Homo sapiens: one gene and its partners. The protein of the gene in region 3 interacts with the protein of the main gene of each other region in a biochemical or structural test. Each region holds a gene or a part of one and is shown on either strand. Other genes may lie near its edges. The genes, in order: CLEC3B, SDC2 and HGF.

Region 1 (7,351 bases), on a different chromosome or scaffold from region 3:
CCTCAGGTGGAGCTAATGAGAGTAGCTTCCTGTACCTTGGACAGTCCCTGGAGGAAACTTTGCACATATGGGCACCTTGGTGCAAATTACAAAAGGTACCTCCTCTAAACTGACAAATTATAGAAAGGCATCTCTTTTTCTGGTCTGACCCACTCTAGCCAGGGCAAGGCTTAGGAGACAAATGGGCCTTCATGTGTCCCTCAGCAGAATGCCCTTCTTCAGTGCCCCCTTGCACAGCCTCACATGGCACCCTATGCTGGTACATCACGTGACTGGGTACAGTGCTGCTATAACTGGTGGAGGCAGTCTCTGTGTGAGGCACACATGACCTCAGGCTGGTTTGCCAGCCCCAAACTCTCCCTTTTTTTGCCTTGCTCATCAGGGTGTTTTTGCTCCAGTTTGGTAAGTTACATCGCTAATTTCTATATACACAACCATGTGTCTTGCCTGTGATTCTTCTGCAAAGGCACCTTATGGGTGGACGAAGGCTCTGATCTCACTCTTTGTGAGTGTGGAATGTATGCAGACACAGCCAAATGGACCATTAAAGTGTTTCCCCACCCACTTCCCCAAGCTGAGTGCAGCCTTTCCTGAAGCCCTGGTGTTTCAGAAAGACCAGGGTCCGCCCCAGGAGCTCTAAACTTACACACACATAGAAATATGCTTCCCGGCACCCTCAACTTACACACACATAGAAATATGCTTCCCCGCCTTCCCCTGCTGACTCTTACATGACTGGCTGCCAGCAGGACAGCTCCTGTTAGGAATCCGTTTGTGTGCCATGGGGAAGGTGGGGAAGAGCATGGCTTCAGAGCCATGTGCACCTGGGTTCCAGGCCAGCCCTGCCAGCTGGGGCTCTGCCATCCTCGGCCAGTTGGTTTAGGGCAGCCTGGGTTTCCTCATGGTGAAATGCTGGTGGTACAGAATGACACGTTACCTGTGTCATAGGGTTGATTATGAGCATCACATGGGGTGACATGTAGAACGGCTTAGCCCAGAGCCTGGCCTCCTCTGTAAGAGTGGAAAACCTGGGTTCCTTCTGCCCTCATCTTATTAGTAGCTGTGATGGGCACACACTCAGCCAAGCACTGAGGTAGGCAGCTCTGCGTTTCAGTTCTCTTAGTCTTCTCCAGAGTCCTAGGAGGTGGGGCTGTCATCATCCACTTCATACATGAGGGAACCAAATCCAGAGAGGCTGAGCAGCTCGCCCAGGCCACCCGTGTCTGTGGCACCTCCAAGCCCTGCATATGCGTGCCCCAGGCTGGAGTGCCTGCTGGTCTGTGTCGCATTCCTCCAGCCTGGGGAAGTGAACCTGGGGGCTTCTTGAGGGCTCCTGCTGTGCTTCCTGTGCTGTTCTTCCCTGGAGCTGAAAAGGTAGCTGGGTGGTGGGGGATCACTGAAGCCTGTGCCTACACCCTCACCCCTGCCTCTGCTAATCCCAGCCCCATCTGATCCCCAGCAACAATCCCAAACAAATGCAGCACAGGAGCAAGTGAAGGATGGGCCCCCTGGCAGAAGTCACAAGTGGTTAATTAGACTACCACCAGCAAGGATAGAGAGAGAGAAAGTTTCCCAAGATATCAAGGTTGAGGGGAGTCTTTTCCTCTCATCCCTCTGCAGCTAAGGTAGGATCCTTCCTGCTCAGTCCCTGCCCCACCCTGACATATTTCCTCCTGCTTCAGATGTTGTGAACACAAAGATGTTTGAGGAGCTCAAGAGCCGTCTGGACACCCTGGCCCAGGAGGTGGCCCTGCTGAAGGAGCAGCAGGCCCTGCAGACGGGTGAGTGCAGGCAGTAGCCTCTCTGGGCAGGAGCGTCTGAGAGAAGGGCCCAGGCCAGCAGCCAGCAATGCTCTTCTCGCCTCCGTTCAGCATCAGGGTCCTGGCTCCATTAGTCCAGGCCTATGGGTGAAGGCACCAGGTTCAGGGAGCCCCACCTCTTTCTCTTGGGGAGATCCCCTGACACGTGTCTGCAAAACTCACCTGGATGTGTACGGCCAAATCTCTGGCCACAGCTGGGTGGTGTGGAAGTGGGGATGTCCCAAGAGGACAAAAAATTCTCCAACAAGAATCCACTACTGCCCACCAGAAGTGACCCTGGAGCGCTCGATGGGGCAGAGGTAGTGGCCCACCCTAGCAAAGCTCCCAGGAGCCCCTCACTCAGCTGGCCTCTGCAGCCCCAGAGAGCTCCACACTCCTGTGTGTCAGCAGCTTTGCTGACCCTGTCTCTCTTAATCGTAACTCTGCTGAGGTGGGATTTGTCAGCTCCATTTTAAAGATGAGCTGTCAGCTCCATGAAATGTCAGCTCCATTTTAAAGATGTGTCAGCAGCAACTGAGGCATAGACAGGTCCTGAACCTGGCTCATACTCACCTCGTTGGTTAGTTGACTCGTGGAAGAGCAAGAGTTGAATGGAGGCAGGCTGCCCAGTGCCAAGCTGGGCCTTGGTGTTCCTGGCTCTGCACTAGCCAGCTGAGGGAGGGTGCACAGAATCACCAAGAACAGGGCCCAGGCGCATGGTAAGGTCATGCCCTCTGGCCAGCATACCTGGCAGCCTATTGTTTCTCACTCCCCATGTTCCTGTCATATAGTCTGCATTTTCCACATACCTCCGATTTACCTACCTTTATATGACCTCACCTTCCATTCTATGGAGAACACAGACTCACAATACTGATGACTATTTACATGTGAGCCCACTACATTCTGGCACTGTTCTTGATGCTTGATGCAGACTCACAATACTGATGACTATTTACATGTGAGCCCACTACATTCTGGCACTGTTCTTGATGCTTGATGCACGTTAACTCATTCACAGCACACCCGTGCAGTGGTCCTGTTACTACATCCTCACCCTTATTTTCCACCGAGAAGGACCTTGTGACAGCCGAAAGGAGCAGAGCCTCACTTAGCTCTGCTATGCTGCCCCTCGAGTTATCAGCTGGGAAATCACCTTGACTCCTCAGCAAATCTATAAACCACCCTGTGTCCACAGCCACTCTCTTACCTGTTGCTTTTGTGACCAAGGCCCATCCATCTGCAAGGCCTTCCCTTCCCCGCCTGCCTCCTCAGAAACCCCCAACAGCCTTCTCACCGGATGGTTTTACACACTCCCTCCCATTCATATGCTTTCCTTCAGCATTCACACTGCCATCCTTCTGCACTCCCACCACAGGGCCTTTGCATGTGCTGTTTGGGCAACCTGAATTGCTCCCCCAAGATCCACCTAATAAATGCCTCCAGCATTATCTTCTCAGGAGTCACTAATCCCTCATCTCAATCAGCTCCTCAGTTATAAGCTCTCCCAGAACAGTGTCCTTTCTTTTATCACACTGACTGCAGTCTGTAATGATACACTCATTTCCTGATTTGTGTCTGCTGCCTCCACTAGACTATAGTAAGCCCTGAGAACACAAGGGCCATGTTTGCTTTTCATTGCCCTTGTCTCTTCCACTACCCTGCCCAGCATAGTGCCTGCCACATAGCAACACTCAGTCAATCTCTGTTGAAGGAAGGACAAACATGTAACTTTGGACAGCTTGCTTGGCATGGCAGGTAGGAAGAGAGTGCTCGAGAAAGGGAGCATCTCCAGAGGTGTTTTTGACTTCATGTAATAGGAAACCTATCAGTGGCTTAAACAAAAAGTAAGTCTGCAAGTAGGTAGTTATAAGTTTTTGTTCAGAAGTTTCACCTCATGGTCTTCAGATGGCTGCCCCAACTCCAGGCATCATGAGTGCATTCAAGGCAAGAAGGAGGAAGAGTAGCCCAACCACATCTGTCTCATTTATAGGGAACGTAGTCTTCCACTTCCATCTCATTGACAAGAAATCTATCATATGGCCACCTGCAGCTTTAAGAACATCTGAGAATGCAAGAATGTAGCTTTTCCAGCCTCTATAGTGGAGGTGGACAAGAGAGAAGGGATTTGGAGGCAACAGTGCCTGGCACAGCGGGTATGTTTAGAATGAGCCCAGTGCCACTCTGAGCCTCAGTTTCCTCATCTGTAAGGTAGGCAGGGTAAACTCTAAGGTCTCTCTCATGTCTAAGCTCTGTGCTGTGCAAAGTCAATGTAACCCAGGCATCAACTGCCACCTGGGGTGAGGTAATGAGGTGGGGACCTCCCTGAAAAAAGTTCATGACATATGGAGGCCCAAAGCATGACATATGAAAGCCCCCATGTCTGCTGATTTCTAGGAAGCTGCTGGGCTTCTTGGGGCCTTCTCCTGTTCATTGTCCTCACAACCCAAAGATCACCTTTTCAATAAACCCACCCAAAGCATTGCAGAGCTCTGTTGACCTAACCAGAGTTGAAGGAATCAGGGGGCAACCTTTCCCTCCTCCAACCAGCATACACATGGGAGGTTCCCACCTGGTACATCTCTGCCAGGCACAAGGAGGCAGAGGTGATGCAGCCAGGGCCCTGCTCCCTGGGAACCTCAATATATTCATGGAATCACTTGAGCCCTTGAAAGCTGTGTAGGAATCAGAGAAGATAAAGAGGGTTGATTCCAAGCAGATGGCAGGGCAGGAGCAGAGGTGTGGAGGACTAGCATAAATCGACAGGATCATGAATAGACCAGAGCAACAAAATGTTGGCAGCAATGATAGTATCACGAGAAGTAGCATTGACTGAGGACTACCTATGTGTTGGAGGGAGGTTCAGGTGAGGGTCCTAGGAAGCAACTCTGAGATGGAGTTTAACCCACAGGAGACTTATCAGGAGATACCCTCAGGATCAACCCCTGTGCTAGGGAAGGGATGGAAGGAAGCAGGAGTGGGCAGAAGGAGAAGTCGAGCTGTACTGTGGTGCCACGAAAGCCTCAGCTGACTTCAGGAGCCCTGATGACGGGATGACCCTTCGGCACTGTCCTGAGTCGGGGCAAGAGGGCTTATGGGTCAGTCTTGGGTGTAGGCTGCTCTAGGGAGGGGCACGGCCTTGGAAGAGATGGCTGTCTTCTGCTGAGGCAGTCCCTGCAGGAGGCTGAAAGCTGAGGACTTTCTTCCTGCAGCATTCCTGGCAGCCAGGGCAGTGAATCCTTCATCCCCAACAAAAGTCTAGGTAGCACGTCAGTGTTACCAGCAGGAAGGAAAGGCAATGAAGGCCGCTTGGCTAAGCTGTAGGATAGCACGAGGTAGGACAGCTGACTTGGGGCAGAGTCTGTGGGTAGACACCTCTGTAATGCTTCAGGCCCCATGTTTAAAGTCGGTTGTGGTGTCAGATGCCCATGGGGACACTGGGATGCTGTCCATTGATATTTGTTGAGTGAAATGGAAGTAACTGAGTGGGAATGGATAGAGGGGAGTGCAGACATCCCCCAAAGTGGTGGGGTCACCAGCAAGAGGACAAATGCAGACATACACCTGTCTGTCAAGATATTCCTTTCCACAGAAATCTTTAGTAAAAGGTGAACGATTTATACGATCTCAGGAGAAATCAGAGTATGTCTAGATATTTCAGCTAGAAATCAAGCTGAAAATGCAAACTGCAAAACAAAAATAGATTTTATCCTCCTAACTTGACCAAATATGTGCCTTCATCACAACCTTTGGGGCCAGGCTCAAACTGAGAATTTGTGGACACCTCAGAGTCCCTTGCCTGATCGCCGGCCTCTGACCACAGCCTGTGCCCAGCACTTCCTGTCTTCTCTCTTGCAGTCTCAGCTCTATCCACTCAGCCCCACCCTACCAGCCCTCAGGAGAACTGACCCTGCAAAAGGCACTTGGCAGGCCCTGGAAGCTTGCTTGGGCTGTTTGGGTAGGGATTTGGGGCCCTGGGTACATGAAGTGTGGCCTAGGCTGTAGGTGGGCAGGTGCCCTGGCCCTGCAAGCTGCTTGATCTTAGGGAGGGGCATGGAGGAAGGAGAACCAGAGCAGGTGGCTGTGGCTGGGCTCCCTGGGAAGCTGACTCTGAGACAGAGCTAATTTGTTAGGGTGAGCCCTAGGAGCCACACATGTGGGGGCGGGGGGAAGAGGAAGTGGGCAGAGGGAGAGCTGAGCTGCAGTGCAGGCACCAGGCCAGCCTCTGTGACCCAAGGAGATGGGGTGGGTAAAGGCCAGAAATGACTGAGGTGGAGGCCTGGGAAGGGGTGTCAGCTGGGGCTGGGTGCTTCTGTAGCACAAGGGCTGCCTTTTCTCCCAGCCGCGGGAGCACCAAGACCTCCTGAGTGGGGATCTGGATCTGTACATTAGTGGCCACCACAGCCAGGTCCTCAAAGTGCATGAACCATCAGGACCCCTTTTGCCTGGGTCTAAGGGGCTGTCAGGACTGATGGGATAAACGGGATGGGATGGAGGACGGTGGGCTTGGCCTGGGCGGTTGGCTCTTTGCCTGGGGAACAGGGGGACCTTCGGTGACAGCCATTTCTCCCCACTCCCAGTCTGCCTGAAGGGGACCAAGGTGCACATGAAATGCTTTCTGGCCTTCACCCAGACGAAGACCTTCCACGAGGCCAGCGAGGACTGCATCTCGCGCGGGGGCACCCTGGGCACCCCTCAGACTGGCTCGGAGAACGACGCCCTGTATGAGTACCTGCGCCAGAGCGTGGGCAACGAGGCCGAGATCTGGCTGGGCCTCAACGACATGGCGGCCGAGGGCACCTGGGTGGACATGACCGGCGCCCGCATCGCCTACAAGAACTGGGAGACTGAGATCACCGCGCAACCCGATGGCGGCAAGACCGAGAACTGCGCGGTCCTGTCAGGCGCGGCCAACGGCAAGTGGTTCGACAAGCGCTGCCGCGATCAGCTGCCCTACATCTGCCAGTTCGGGATCGTGTAGCCGGCGGGGCGGGGGCCGTGGGGGGCCTGGAGGAGGGCAGGGGCCGCGGGAGGCCGGGAGGAGGGTGGGGACCTTGCAGCCCCCATCCTCTCCGTGCGCTTGGAGCCTCTTTTTGCAAATAAAGTTGGTGCAGCTTCGCGGAGAGGAGAGGCGCTGCAGTCTGTGCTGTGTCCGCGGGGCGGGGAGGAGGTCCCAGGAGCCGGTTCGAAAGCTCCCTCCGTGATGAAGTAGGCGAGAAGGGAGGAGGTGAAGGAGGGCGAGCTGAGCACACGCGCTTCATGCCACAGGAGGGTGGGAATGAGCGGAGGACTGAGGAGAGGAAGGAGGGAAAGAATAGGGAGATGAAAACGCCCCGGTCTGCTGCTAAGCACAGCACAGTTACCAAAGCCAGGAAACTAACACTGACACGATATTTTATTTACGTTACAGCTCTATTCAAAGCTCCAGGCTTCTTTTTGTAGAATCGTTTCCATCTGCTGGAATCCAGCATCGCCCCCACCCCCCGCCCCATTTCTAGGGGGATGCCCCCACTGCTGACCTCTCCTGCTGTAGATCTATTTCTGGGAGGCAC
Region 2 (7,486 bases), on a different chromosome or scaffold from region 3:
TCTGTGGTACCTTCCTGGATTCATACATCCAAATCTATAACATTCAAATATGGCTCTTTGGATATGTATTTTAGTCCATAAATAATGTTTTCTTTAAACTTTATCTGATTTTAGAATGAAATTCATCATGTACTTTAGTCACAGATTCATGACTTGAGAACAACTCTTAGTTTAAAAATGTATTAACTCTAACAAGGTTCAAGAAAATTCATGTGCCTACCCAGTGAGTACCTGAGTTGCAGCAGGTGATCCATACATATTTGTTGACTGAATGTCAAATTTTGCCAGCCTTTAAAGAACCATACCACACTGTTAGAAAAACTGACATGAAGGGCCAAGTGTGATGGCTCACACCTGTAATCTCAGACCCTTCGGAGGCCAAGGGGGAGGATCACTTGAGTCTAGGAGTTCGATGCCAGCCTGGGCAATATAGTGAGCCCTCGTCTCTAAAAAAAGAAAAAAAGAAAAAAAAGAAAAAGAAAAACAGAAGTAACTGTTTTATCTCCTGTCTTATTTTATGTATTATACACTTCCTTGATTTTCCTGTGTCCTCCTATCCAAAACTGTAACAATTTTGTTCAACATTAGCACCATATCATTTTATGAAACTCAAATCAGCCAACTTCTCTGGGAAGGGGTTGATGGAGGTGAATAAAGAGAACAGTGGAAAGTTTGAGGCTGAAAATAGACTTTTTTTTTTTTTTTTTGGAGACAGAGTCTCGCTCTGTTGCCCAGGCTGGAGTACGGTGGCATGATCTCGGCTCACTGCAACTTCTACCTCCCGGGTTCAAGCAATTCTCCTGCCTCAGCCTCCCAAGTAGCTGCGACTACAGGTGCCCGCCATCACACCTGGCTAATTTTTGTTGTGTTGTTCTTAGTAAAGACGGGGTTTCACCGTGTTGCCCAGGCTGGTCTTGAACTTCTGAGCTCAGGCAATCTGCCTGCCTCGGCCTCCCAAAGTGCTAGGATTACAGGTGTGAGCCACCGCGCCAGGCCTGAAAATAGATTTTTTTGGATTGCCTGTAGATTTTGGTCATGGCCTCAGCTCACTTGCCAGTATTAGCGATGGCTCATTAATGGTTGGCTGGATGGATATCCTATTCCTCTCAGCTTCTATCATCTTTCAAGTGAATTTCATAAGAGCCAATCCTACCAAATTGATTTCTAGCCTGGACTCCTGGTAACAGTCCAGGGGGTGCCAAGTGGAAGAACAACCGAGAACAACAGAATGGCATCTTTTTTTTCCGCTATCCCCTACTCTGACAACTCACCTCAGGACAGAACACCTGTTTATCCACGGTTGTAATGTGGTATCATTTGTTACCGTAGTGACAGAGTCCGATGTGTCAGTTTAGGTTAAAAACTGTCTTTAGTAGCTTTCATTTCTATTTTTTCACTTGTCTGGTTCTCTTTATTTTTTATTTGTTTTTACATGTTTGCATCTTAATCTCTATGTTGTTTATTTTTAATATTTTCTCCTGAGACTCTTGAAGTGTGGTAATTATTCTTTTAGCAATCAATGAAGCTATTTGGGAAGTGATTGGTTAAGCTGTGCCCCTCAAAGCATAGCCCTCAAAACCTGAGGACTTGAAGTATATTTGCAAAGAACCTTTGGTTCTAGTCACAAGCTATACTTAGTGAATTAGATATACTACACAAAATTCTGCCAAATTTTAGTCCCCATCAGTTTTTTAAACATTTCCAATTAGCAAAACACACAAACAGGCCTACATCGTTTGCGAATTTAGACAAATCCTGACTAATACCAGCGGACCTCCCCTGACTTCTGTCCCCATCCCCACTCAGCATGGGTGACCTCTTTGTAGCCAGCTCTTGTGTAAGTGCTTTTTATACTGTCAGATTATCCTTCTTGCCACAGCTGTTAATAAATCTGAACACAAGATCTTGAATATTTGTTTTCATCTCCTTAATATTGTGTCACTCAAAATGGTACCAATTCCCTTATTATATATACTCTCAATGGAGTATTTATCATCTTTAAAGAAACAAGTCACTGAGCATCTCATCAACACCAAGAGCCTTGGGGTGTGCCTTCAGGGCAGCAAACAGATAATATCCCTTCAACACGTGTATCCACTTATTCATTTTTTATCACTGTCTGCCCAAGCTGAATCAGAGAGCATTCACCACGCTTCTTGTTACATGGGTGCCCCAGTAAACAGCAATAACTGTGAGAACCAGCAAATCAGTGGAGTGCACTTCCTGTTTTACTGGAATTCCAATTTATTTGATGAATACTTAACTGTTGGGGACAATGGAGGTGTGGCCTTGCCTGAAGGCTGGCGAGTAGACGAGGCCTCTTATGAGGACAGAGCTGGTATTTTATGGCTCTTTGCATGTATTTTGCATTGCTGCTTTTCCTTTGGAGGCCTTTTTAAGAAGTCTCCCCATCTCATGAACCTCTTCAACCCACAGACTCCATCTTAAAAATAAGGGCACTAGGCTGGTGGCTCACGTGTCTAATCCCAGGACTTTGGGAGGCTGAGGCAGGCAGATCACTTGAGCCCAAGAGTTTGAGACCAGCCTGGGCAACAATGGAAAACCCTGTCTCTATAAAAAACACAAAAATTAGCTGGTGTGGTGGCCTGTGCCTGTAGTCCCAGCTACTTGGTAAGCTGAGGTGGGAGGACTGCTTGAGCCTGAGAGGTAGAGGCTACAGTGCAGGCCACTGCACTCCAGCCTGGGCAAGAATGAGACCCTGTCTCAAAAAAAAAAAAAAAAAAAAAAAAGGCTGTGGTTCATTCTTTCAAAAGCTAAGTGGAGCCCACATTGGCACAGATGCCAGCTACAGTGTCTGTGGAATCAGAAGCATCATCTGATGTTACAACTTCTGGCCTATTGCTCTTTTTCTTCTTTCTCCTTTGCCTACTCTTCTATTTCTCCATATTACCTTTTTGTTGGCCAATGCCTTAGACTTGCTCATGAGCATTTGTAGGTTTGGTAGCTGGCACACAAAACCAAAGGAATAAGTGTCTCCAAGTTTGAGTTGTAATTCTCCAGTTAAATTTCTTTCTTTGAGATTTATTACAGTAATAGGTTACTAAGACATTTAATTCTCACTGAGGGTATGACTGTATTTTATTCTAATACTGAGTTGAAAAATTACCATGGCCTCATATCTATATATCTACATTGGTGTATTTTAAAGGCTCACAACTCTTATACGGTATAAATTGAGCTTTAGAGCAAAATTTATTCAAGATAATATTTATCATGTGTCTTTATGTACCAGGAATGAGAATACAATGGTGAACAGACAGAAAAGTCTCTGGTTTCCTGTAGTGGGCATTCCAGGAGCAGAATGGCGTCATAATTCATTTACTCTATAAGTCAGAGAGAAAAATGATGGCACGAACTGCAAGGGATTTGTGTGTAAAATTTGTGACAGTAAGAAAAAGAAACTGGAAGGGAATACGCATTTGCCATGTTCTATAATATGCCACAGACATTGTAACAAAATATTTCATGTCAGCTACTTCCATTTAGGAAATACATGTTCATTATTTTCTTCAAACTAAGAATTACTTTATCCCTCTTTTCTTTGAAGTTATCTTAAATCTGTTATTATTCAGGGTCTCTATCCAACTTCTCATCAAATTACCCTATTTGTAGCTTCCAAACGTTAACACCTATCTGCTAAAATGGAGCCTATAAAAAGCCTTAGTGGCATAAACTGTGTGTGAGGGAGAAATGGTATTTAAGCCCTTAATGAAGTTAGGAGCTTTCAAACTGTTGCACTTTGGGTTTACAGGATCCTTCCTCCATGTCCCTTTTTTGGGGGTGCGGAAGGATTTGGGAGAATGGGAAACACTCTCACTATATATTTATTACATTAATTATCTTCTCTTTTAAAATGCAATTTTCATGAACTGGCGATTTATGAACACTTCACATTGCTTGAAAGCATCTTACACTTTTTTTTTCCCTCAACTCACAAAGCAGTTTCTTTCTACTGGTCGAATTCTCAAGGCAGAAAAGCTACATACGTCTCTCGTTTCTTCACTAATTGTTCTCTAGAAAAGGGAAAGTGAAGAAGGGAAAGAGAAAAGACAACGGGGAAGAAAAGAGCATAGAGGAGAGAGGAAAAGTGGGGAGAGAAAGGAAGAAAAGGACTGAGAAAACGCAGGAGCCCTGGCTTGCCGGTGAGCAGAGCCGGCGCAGCCACAGCGCGGAGCCGCGGCGCCCACTGGTCCTCGGAGCTGCCAATCGGCGTGTAATCCTGTAGGAATTTCTCCCGGGTTTATCTGGGAGTCACACTGCCGCCTCCTCTCCCCAGTCGCCCAGGGGAGCCCGGAGAAGCAGGCTCAGGAGGGAGGGAGCCAGAGGAAAAGAAGAGGAGGAGAAGGAGGAGGACCCGGGGAGGGAGGCGCGGCGCGGGAGGAGGAGGGGCGCAGCCGCGGAGCCAGTGGCCCCGCTTGGACGCGCTGCTCTCCAGATACCCCCGGAGCTCCAGCCGCGCGGATCGCGCGCTCCCGCCGCTCTGCCCCTAAACTTCTGCCGTAGCTCCCTTTCAAGCCAGCGAATTTATTCCTTAAAACCAGAAACTGAACCTCGGCACGGGAAAGGAGTCCGCGGAGGAGCAAAACCACAGCAGAGCAAGAAGAGCTTCAGAGAGCAGCCTTCCCGGAGCACCAACTCCGTGTCGGGAGTGCAGAAACCAACAAGTGAGAGGGCGCCGCGTTCCCGGGGCGCAGCTGCGGGCGGCGGGAGCAGGCGCAGGAGGAGGAAGCGAGCGCCCCCGAGCCCCGAGCCCGAGTCCCCGAGCCTGAGCCGCAATCGCTGCGGTACTCTGCTCCGGATTCGTGTGCGCGGGCTGCGCCGAGCGCTGGGCAGGAGGCTTCGTTTTGCCCTGGTTGCAAGCAGCGGCTGGGAGCAGCCGGTCCCTGGGGAATATGCGGCGCGCGTGGATCCTGCTCACCTTGGGCTTGGTGGCCTGCGTGTCGGCGGAGTCGGTGAGTGGGCCAGGCGGAGGATGCGCGCGCCGTTTAGGGTGTTTGAAGCTACGAGAGGAGCCCGCAGGGAATAGGGGAGCGCCACCTGGGGAACCCCCAGTCCCCAAGTATACACCGGAGATCCGCTGGGACAAATGCGCTCGTCCGGTCACCCTTTCCCCCTCTTCCCTTCCTCAGAAAAGCGCTGCTCGCTGGCGTTACCCCGCGGTCCGCGGGAATGGGGGCACCGAGAATTGCGGTTTGGTCTAGCCGCAGAGGCCCCTGAAGTCACTCCCAACTTCTTCGCCCTCGGCGGGTCTTGCTGCGTGGTCTGGGAAGGACGGAGGGGAAAGGGTGGCAGGAGGGGGGAGCCTGGGTCGGGCCCGCGAGGGAACGGCTCCACTCCGCGCGCTCCTCGAGACCAGGGATGACCTGGAAACTTCGGGGTCCCTTCCTCCGCACACCATCCCCCCCGCGCCAGCTTTCCTGTTTGACTGCATGCAAGTTCTGGGGAGATGGGGGCCAGATTTAAGAGACCCGCGAGTGTCCAGAGAGAAAAGTTTGCAAAAGTTCTTTTGTTTGATGCTCCCTGCGGCTAGGGCGAGGTAACCGACACTACGTGGAATCGCAGTAGGCGATCCCTCAAGGGGATACTGGGGGAGGCACGGAACGCGTCCGAAAATGCTGGGACGCCGGCCACTGGATTCCCAGTCCTGCGGCGACCCCCTCCTCGTTGAGGGGTGGAGGTTGCACCGCGGGGCGTCAGGGACGGGAGGACATTTTCATAGGAGTTACACGGGAGTGCCGCAAGCAGGGCGAGGCGGGGTACGTGTGACACGGCGCTCGGCTTCGGGTCGCCTGGCCGCTGGGGGACAGAGGCTTCCCTCCCGCCACGCTCGCCCTCTCTGGCCCTGGCGGGGCGCTTCTGGGGCCGGGAGGAGTCTCGTCTCCGGCGGAGCGCCTGCCGGCACCCAGCTTCCCTCCCCCGCCCTGGCGGTGGGAACTTGATTTCTCCTTTTGGTCGCGCTTCGGGGGCTGGAGCTTGTTTCCCCACGTCGCCCAATGAGCGCCCTCTAAAGGGAACTGCCTCCTTGGCCTCCTCTCGTCCGCAGCTGCCTCCACCTGGGCGCCAGGAGCTCTGTCGGGCCAGGTGGAAGCTTGAGCACCCCAGATTTCGTCTGCAGCCTCAGTGCCCTCTGGGGTCTCAGGGAGTGCGGCTGTTTCTGGCCCTTCTGGTTCCCCACGTCCTCTCCCTTTGCCATTTAATAACGTGTCAATTTCTAATTAATTGAATGGTCTTTTCAAAGACAAATTATATCATCTTAAGGTCTTTTAGGTAGTTTTATGAGTTTGAGTCTCCCTCCCCCCCTTTTTTGTGCTGAGGCTAATTTAGGACTGGGAAACCTCTTTGGCATCGAGCGGCAGATGGACATTTTTAATCAGTGTGGGAGCCTCTGTGTGTGCTAGCAGATCCCCATACGTTCTTTGTGGTTGGAGAGCATGTAGAATTGGAAACTGTACAGACTACATGAGTATTTTGGGTGCTCAGGTTGTAAAATAGAACTCCCAGCCTTATCAGTGTTTCCCTTTGGCAAATGATGGTTTAATCCGTTGGTATTAGTTATCTCCCAGCCAGTTAGGATGAACTTTGGCTCTTTGTACACCAAAAGGCAGCAGTTCTCTTGTTTATTTCAGATGAGCGTTGTTGCTCCTCTTGTTGCAAAACAGGGCAAAGGGACTTCATCTAATAAATTTCAAGAGCCTGCCTAAAAAACTGCACATGGTTAAGGAGGCCCTTTTTTTTTGCTGAGTCTTATTCATGGATTTGCTAGGAAATGTTACTGTTTTGGGATTCTGGAGAAAGAATGTTTCTGTCTTCTGCTCCTCTGGGTTTTTGCATAAATCTACCAGTGCTCCTTAAGGAAGTTTTTTGGCCGAACTATATACCTGTCCTCCCCGGTGACAGCTTTCCCCTGAACTGTGTATCTTTGGGGTTCTAATATTTCTCAATTTGAACCAGAACTGGATGCTTTCCGAGTGAACTGCTTCATTGTGATAGACACTGTTTTCAGTAATTGGAAAATCATCCAAAAAGGGTGATTAGATATTTATAAAATGTCAACTTAGAGACTAGCAGAGAATCTTTGTTAGGCAGTGAGTCAGTCTTTCTAAATAGAAGCTGTTTCAAGGCCCAGAATGGCTAACAGTCCATTTAAATTACTTTTCAGTCTCCGTTTGTTTCATGTATAGCAGCAAAAATATAAATGAAGTCAAAAGACTGAATTTAAAAAAAAATTAGCAATTACAGAATATTATTTCCAGGACTTTGCATTTTAATTTGAAAACTGCAACTGTTTCCTGGGATTTAGAAGTAGTGATTTGGGTTTAAAGTCTCCCTTTAAAGGAAGAAAGGAAAACTGCCTACAGTTAGTGAATTCTTAAGTTTTATACTTAGCTCTGGGGGTAAAAAAGAGGTTCTCAGGAACTAAGGCTCAAAACTGCCTATGAAAAGGAACTGGTAGCTGTTCCTTTAT
Region 3 (7,351 bases):
ATTCCAAGAGACTATATAAACTATGCCAGTTGAGGAAAGAAAACTGATTTTTAAACAAATGTACTAGTGATTACTGAGACAAACTCCTCAAAGTAATTCACTCTGGAGACTTTCACTAAATATGATGTTACTGCTATTATACAAACATTTGGGAGATATCTCCTTCAAATTTATTTCAGTGGCTAAATTACCTTGATTTAAATGTCAGTGACATATATATTTTTAAAAACATTCTGGAGGATAAATACATTTTTGAGAAGTGGCGGAATCTACTTGAGGTCAAGTCTTATCAATAAAGTTAAAAACAACATATATAGTATACAGATATGAATAATTCAAACTGAAGAGGGAAGTGAAAAATATATAGGTGATAATCCAAATTAAAGGCTATTCTTCAAAAGCAGTTGTCAAATTGGTTTTGGTAATGACAATAATTAGATGATCTGTAAGGTTGGGTCTAGTTAGAAACTTCTGTGTTTCCCGGATGCTTATTGCTTTTTCTTTTTAAAGTATAGTCATTTATTTCTCCTAGTAAATGTTCCCTTGTTATAATGAACAATGGTTTCATTGTTCATGATTTACTAGAAAGGCAACAAATTTGAAACTGGTTATAAACATATAATCTGTTTCTAACCATATCATTTTTAAGCAGTTCTAAAAACTCAGTAAACAGTAAACATTTTCTCTTCTTTTCAGAAATAAAATCTCAGAGCAAGGTGTATAACACTTGCATTTCAATACATATTTATGTTCCATACTTACAGCATGCATTTTCCTACATATCAAAGGACATTTCACTATCATTGAACTCATTTCATCTTTTGCCACACACAGCATTCCACAATCCCACAGCCCTGAAGCTTGGAGAACATGTCTCTCACATTCAAAATCTAACTAAACTAACAGTTTAACAGCTTGTCTATGTAAAATAGGGATAGGAACATTGCCAAGCCGAAATAACAGTTGCCTCACAAATGAAATGTCCAAGCTCGTAAAGTCACAAACTTTGACCTTTAGGCTTTTTAAAATAGAATCTGTTTAAACACATACACAGAGCGAGAGAGCAAAAGAGGGAACAGCTTACCCAAAAAGAGATTTAAAAGTTTAAAGCCAGGCATCTCTGAATGATATAATTAGTGGAGTTCACTTCGAGATAATTTGGGAAGATAAAATAAATTTAGAAAAACATTAGAAAAATGCAAACCATTGATCTAACTGATTTGGATACTTCTCATTTGAATAGCTCTCCCTTGGAGTTCCGGCTCTACACACTTATTATTTTTTGAGTGACAAATGTCATCATAGTTTGCTGCTAATAAAACATTGATTATCTCACTGCTTAGTTGAAAGAAATGCAGAATATTACAGAGTTAATTTTCCCAATTCCTCTTTCCTAGAATAGGTTGGTATACAATATTTTTGATTTGAGAAAAATAAACAGAAAAAAATAAACATGAAACACTAAGCTATGAATCACATACTCCTTATTAAAGAACTTCCTTTTTACCTCACATGGTCCTGATCCAATCTTTTCAGCCCCAGCACATATTTCAGACTCATTCAGAGTCACCTTCCCTCGATGATGCTGGCTGCATTTCTCATTTCCCATTATATAGAGATGTGCCACTCGTAATAGGCCATCATAGTTGATCACTAGATTGATGCAAAAAACATACAATAAGGTGAGAAAAGTAAGAAACAAAGACAAATGTGTTCTTTTTAAAATAAAATAAATATGGCCTCATCTTTTGAAAACTAGCTTACATCCAGTGTAGCCCCAGCCATAAACACTGCAACTGGTCTTTTCAGGAATTGTGCATCCATAATTAGGTAAATCAATCGTACTAACAAAATCATCCAGGACAGCAGGCCTGAAAACACAAAATACAATGGTAAGTACTCTCAACTGGATTCAACACAAAATTAACATATTAAATGTAGTGTTCATGTTTAATATGGCATTTACAGAGAATGAAGTCCTGTTTCTTAAAAAAAAAAAAAAAAAGGTGGGAATGTCCAAATGTAATGATGACATTTGGAATAGGTAGTAAAGAAATGAGTCATGTATTTGCCAATATTTAAGAATAAATGGTCAATGCTATTTTTTAAAATAATTATTTTACATTTGAAAGTTATCAAATAACTGCTGAGTTTCCATTTTAAAACAGACTGATCAGACTGTTGGCCCAATGTTAGTTATTCATTTTTTTACAGTTTTGCAAATACCTTTCTCTCTATACTCACAGAGAGACCCAAACGCACGCATATATACATATATATACAGCATGTAACATATGTTTATAATGCATCTGTATGAGAGAGAACGAACTGCCACACAGCTGAAGAAAATGCTCCAACAATTCTTGTCCAGGTGAAAAATACAAAATCTTCTAAAGTAACTAACCTGGCAAGCTTCATTAAAACCAGATCTGATCCTTCAGGGCCATATACCAGCTGGGAAACATTGAGAACCTGTTTGCATTTCTCATCTCCTCTTCCGTGGACATCATGAATTCCAAGCCAAGCTTCATAATCTTTCAAGTCTCTGTTTTGAAGGAAAAAAATTTAAATGTAAAACATAATAATTCCAAATTCTGTAGTATTATTCCTATCTATTGTTATTTTAGACTATTAAGGCACATAACCTAAATTTAAAATTTGATTCATAGTATAATAAAGAACAACACATTTGTTATGGCAGATTCTGAATACTACAAACATACATAAGCAGAAAGAGGCTTTAAATTGCTGAGATTCTAAATGACTATTTTAGAAACTTGCTTATGCTTGCTAGAAGTCACTTGTGAAAAATGCTCAGGTAAAGCACTTTACATGAATTATAATTTTTTCTGCAAATTTTGCTTTGTTTATGTCAGCTGTGTATATATTTGGTTTGGTAACAGGGGTTGAAGTTTTCTACAAACAAAATCAAAGTGACCTTGCTGAGAAGCAGGAAGGAAGTTTACAAATGCTGCCTCTTTATCTTTTCCTTAGGCTAATTTTCATTGAAAATTATGCCCAGGATGATCCTGAGGCTGACTCTACAGGAGAAAGAAGTAGTGAGGACTGAAAAAAGCCTATTGACAATTTAGAAAAAAAAAAGAATTATATCTAGAAATACAGGGTACAAGTAGAAAGTTGGGATATAAAACATTTACATAATTCTAGCAAAATTTTCCCCAACTGAGGGTAACACTAATTGTGAAAAGAGGTGAACTGAAGTAGTGTCTTGTAAATATCTGTGAAGTCAAAGTAAGTTTTGTAAGCCAAATTCTAAAAATGAAATAATTTGTTCACCCCATTTGTGAATCTCTGTAAAATGAATACATATTATAACCTTAAGAGCAAAGTGGAAGACATACACATTTTAAAGGCTCAAAATAATACTAGTTTTAAAAACACTTTACCGAGAAGGGAAACACTGTCGTGCAGTAAGAACCCAACTCTCCTTTATCAATGATCCTCCGCAGATATGTTTATTTCTGTGAAAAAGAGGAAAGAGAAACAAGTAACATCTGTGCAGAAAGAGTGACTGCCAATTAATGCAAAGCCTGTGGCTCCATTTGTTAAAAATAAATACACTGCAGAGGAAAATATAGAAATTAACCCAACTGGAATAAAATGAGAAGTTCTTTTATCTGAAGGGTGATATTTGGTGATTGTAGCGTTAGCTTTTTTTTCATAATGTGACTATAAATTTATGAAATCAATTTGACTTTTGTGTAGTCTAAAGTTATTACACATCAATAGCCATCCCGAACACACATATTCGTGTGTATGTGCATCTATCCTTGTGAGGAACGTATGTGCTACAAATATAGGATAATTATAATTTCTTAAAAATGTGAATCTATTTTAAATTCAGTGTTTGCTTATTAAAAATGCAAAGTTGAGTTCTTGTTTGAACCCTGAAAACCATCTAGTGGTAGCAATTTTATTCGTGCACTATTTCCTTCTTCTACTACCATTATGTAGTTTTGATATATTAACATAAAATGTAACTGAATCTGAATAAATTACTTTGTCCAGTATAAGATCAGGAATATAATATTTCATCTCTAAAGTAAAACAATTTTGCAAGGCAAATCATTTAGGAAATTGTAAAATATTTGCAGAGTATGATGAGTACTAGTACATTTTTTTGATGATATCCAAAATCTGTAAATCCATTTTTTTTGGCAGAGACATGGAAAAAGCACAACTTTTCATAATTTACATTTCCAAAGAGTACAGATGTTCAGTGCTTCAGAGGGTAATACTAGAAGATTCCCAGACTGAGACCACAGTTATTTATGGCCTTTACCACACAGGAGGATAAGAATATATATTGACTTTTAATTTCTATCCTTTTCAGTATGAGTTTTGGAAGAATAACTAAGCAGCTGTTGTTGCTAAGAACTTGGATTTAAAAAGGAAAAAAACTAAAAATTTACAGTACTCTAATCTGATGGAAAAATAGCTTCACCTGCTTTTCCAACAATGGAGATGACCAAAGCAGTATCCTTGTGAATTCTCTTACTGGAAAAAATAACTTAGAAGTATTAATATATGTCTTCTTTTATCCTCTGGGGTTATAAGATAAGCAAAGAATCACCAATTAACTCAAATGTGGATTATTGAAAGATTTCTCCTTCCTTCCTTCTTTTTTTTTTTTTTTTTTTTTTTTTTTTGAGACAGAGTCTCGCTCAGTAGCTGGGATTACAGGCATGTGCCACCATGCCCGGCTAATTTTTGTATTTTTAGTAGAGATGGGTTTTACCACGTTGGCCAGGCTGCTCTTGAACTCCTGACCTCAAGTGATACACCTGCCTCAGCCTCCCAAACTGCTGGGATTACAGGTGTGAGCCACCACACCCAGCCTCTTGAAAGATTTTCTATAATTAAGAAAATTAAACACTCCAACAGAATTCTAAAGTCTTTACTAAATCCTCATACTGCACACTCAGCTTTAATATTCTGGTTAGTTTCACAATTCTATTTTAGTACTACACACCTAGGACAGCTATACTACAATTATTGGCATAAATATTTATAAAATCTGATAAGCCATTCCTTGAGAAAAGGGTATACTAAAAAAAGAACTTTAGGCCATCTCCTACAACATTGTGGTCATCTAAAGTCATATATATCAAATTATATAAACTCTTGCTTTCCAATAATTGGTTTATTCATAAAAGGACTTCTGTTTCAAGTTGTCTCTATTCTAATGTCACTGTGATTTAATAATAGTAACAGACATTCTTTTTCTCTACTCTAGGAGGCTAGCGGTAAGGGAACAGGAGGGTATTCTAAAAGAGGGGATATTTAGGTTGAAATTTGAAGGAGAAGGAATTTTCAGGCATAAAACATGGAGGAAGAAAGCCACAGTGTGTTGTGGGAACAACAGCATAAAGGCTTAGAGGAAGAAACGTGAGGTATCTAGAAAACAAGAGACAATGTGGTTCAAATTCAATGTATCTTGGGGTGTGTTGCATGGTAAGGTTCTGATAGAGATAGCCAAAGACATAAATATTTTAGCATTCCAATTAACATACAGAATAATATATGTAGTATATGAAAGTTGTAAGATCAGATTTTAAGTTAACTTATATTTTCAGTATTTAATTCTTATGACATAATTATTAAGCATAATTTTCTCTAACAATATGATTTGCAAAGTGATTTTATGTAGAATATGTCATTGATTCTTAAGAGCATTGAGAAATAGACATGTCAAGAATTTTGTATCCCCACTGATTATTATAATATCAAGACTATTTAACTATTGGCCTTTTTGTAAAGATAAAATGCTCTAGAATTTAAAATTACCATTTTTCATTTGATTGACAAGGAAAAAGTCAGAAATTAAAAACAAATATAAATGTTTTGACATGATCATGCATAAACATATTAGAAAATAAACCCATAATATCCTAGATTGGAAATTTAATAACAAGTATCATAACTACTATGGTAATATTAAGGTTTCAATAGGTCCTCCGTATTTTGCTTAATCGGAACCAAAGTGTCTCTTAGAATCAGGGACATTGCCAACACATATGGGACCTTTGTGAAGATTTAAAAAGGCACTACCTCTGGAGGCACAAATTATAGTCCAGAGCTTACAGTCTGGCAAGCAGATGTGATCAGCTTCCTCTTTTACTGCCTCACCCAGGTGCCCTGTGGAGGGTACAACCTTCAGGACCACATGTGTCCATATTTCTGGGAATAGGACTCTCTTGTACATATTCTGGATATGCATGACTTGCATCTATTAATAATTACCTGTATCTCAAACTAACCATCCATCCTATGTTTGTTCGTGTTGGAATCCCATTTACAACTCGCAATTGTTTCGTTTTGGCACAAGATATTACGGGATCTGAAACAGGACCAAACATAACATTTTTTAAAATAAGAATTTGAAATAATCAGTGCCTCTTAGTTTTCTTAAATGCAATGATAATTACACAAATGTAACTATTCTTATTGTGTCCAAAGAACAGTTTGGTGAAAGAGAAGTTTAATATGACCGCAGCATTATATTAAGTCCTTAACACTTGCCATCTTCATCTAAGAAGTTGAGTAACTCAGAAAAACAAATAAACTCAAAGCAGACAGGATTGCCATGAGAGTGACAATGGCTTTGCTCACAATACACTAAGACCAAGCTCCTCAGGTCTAATCCCTCACCACCCTCAACATAAAATAAACCAAAGTTATTTACAATGGTTATTTCTAATGGTCAGTAGAAATCAATAGATTCAGTGAAAAAAACAAAACCAAGCTTTACTTGGATATTACTTCTGAATTTGTACAGTTAGATTGTAGATTTATTCAATATGTCTTACCAACATTTGATTTATTGAAATCATATCCAAATGATATAATTATTATTTTCAAATCATTATGTCCAAAGACATAATATAAAATTTATTGGAGTAAATGTTTTCCTGACCCTCCTCTGTGCTCCTCGCCTTATCCCCTCTACTTCTGCCCATGGTCTAGAATAGATATCCATTTGCTTCCTGAGCCTGGGGCACAGCAGGTGGTATTCTAAATCAAAAACACTTGAGTAACTTCCTTCAGCTCAAGAGATATGTGAAAATAAAATACAAGTGGCCCCCAACAGATTCTTAAACTGAGGATTAACTGAATATCATAGACTGTGTCATCTTGTGCCCACTTGACTGTAGGGCATGCAGAGAAGTTTACAAATAGAGTAGAATAGAGGCACTGAATAACTTTCCAACTTTCAGGTTTCATTCTCCTGAATTCAGCATCCTAATTTTATTAAATCATGGTATATATAAAGGTGGTCCATTATACGCATTGTGCCCCAAATTAAAAGTAAATATAAACACTCTTTTCG

What was found.
Region 1: the proteins of HGF (region 3) and CLEC3B form a complex in vitro, tested with the Homo sapiens proteins (one study listed by BioGRID).
Region 2: the proteins of HGF (region 3) and SDC2 form a complex in vitro, tested with the Homo sapiens proteins (one study listed by BioGRID).

What each region holds. Positions count from the first base shown.
Region 1 is NC_000003.12:45,029,145-45,036,495, forward strand, and holds the end of CLEC3B (tetranectin), read left to right. Parts: intron 1-998; exon of another isoform or gene 999-1,093; intron 1,094-1,682; coding exon 1,683-1,781; intron 1,782-6,379; coding exon 6,380-6,780; 3' UTR 6,781-6,927; downstream 6,928-7,351. UniProt on the Homo sapiens protein: Tetranectin binds to plasminogen and to isolated kringle 4. May be involved in the packaging of molecules destined for exocytosis. Plays a role in retinal function.
Region 2 is NC_000008.11:96,489,359-96,496,844, forward strand, and holds the start of SDC2 (syndecan-2 precursor), read left to right. Parts: upstream 1-4,454; 5' UTR 4,455-4,913; coding exon 4,914-4,973; intron 4,974-7,486. UniProt on the Homo sapiens protein: Cell surface proteoglycan which regulates dendritic arbor morphogenesis.
Region 3 is NC_000007.14:81,703,883-81,711,233, forward strand, and holds part of HGF (hepatocyte growth factor isoform 1 preproprotein), read right to left. Parts: intron 6,362-7,351; coding exon 6,265-6,361; intron 3,483-6,264; coding exon 3,408-3,482; intron 2,546-3,407; coding exon 2,405-2,545; intron 1,872-2,404; coding exon 1,765-1,871; intron 1,654-1,764; coding exon 1,508-1,653; intron 1-1,507. UniProt on the Homo sapiens protein: Potent mitogen for mature parenchymal hepatocyte cells, seems to be a hepatotrophic factor, and acts as a growth factor for a broad spectrum of tissues and cell types.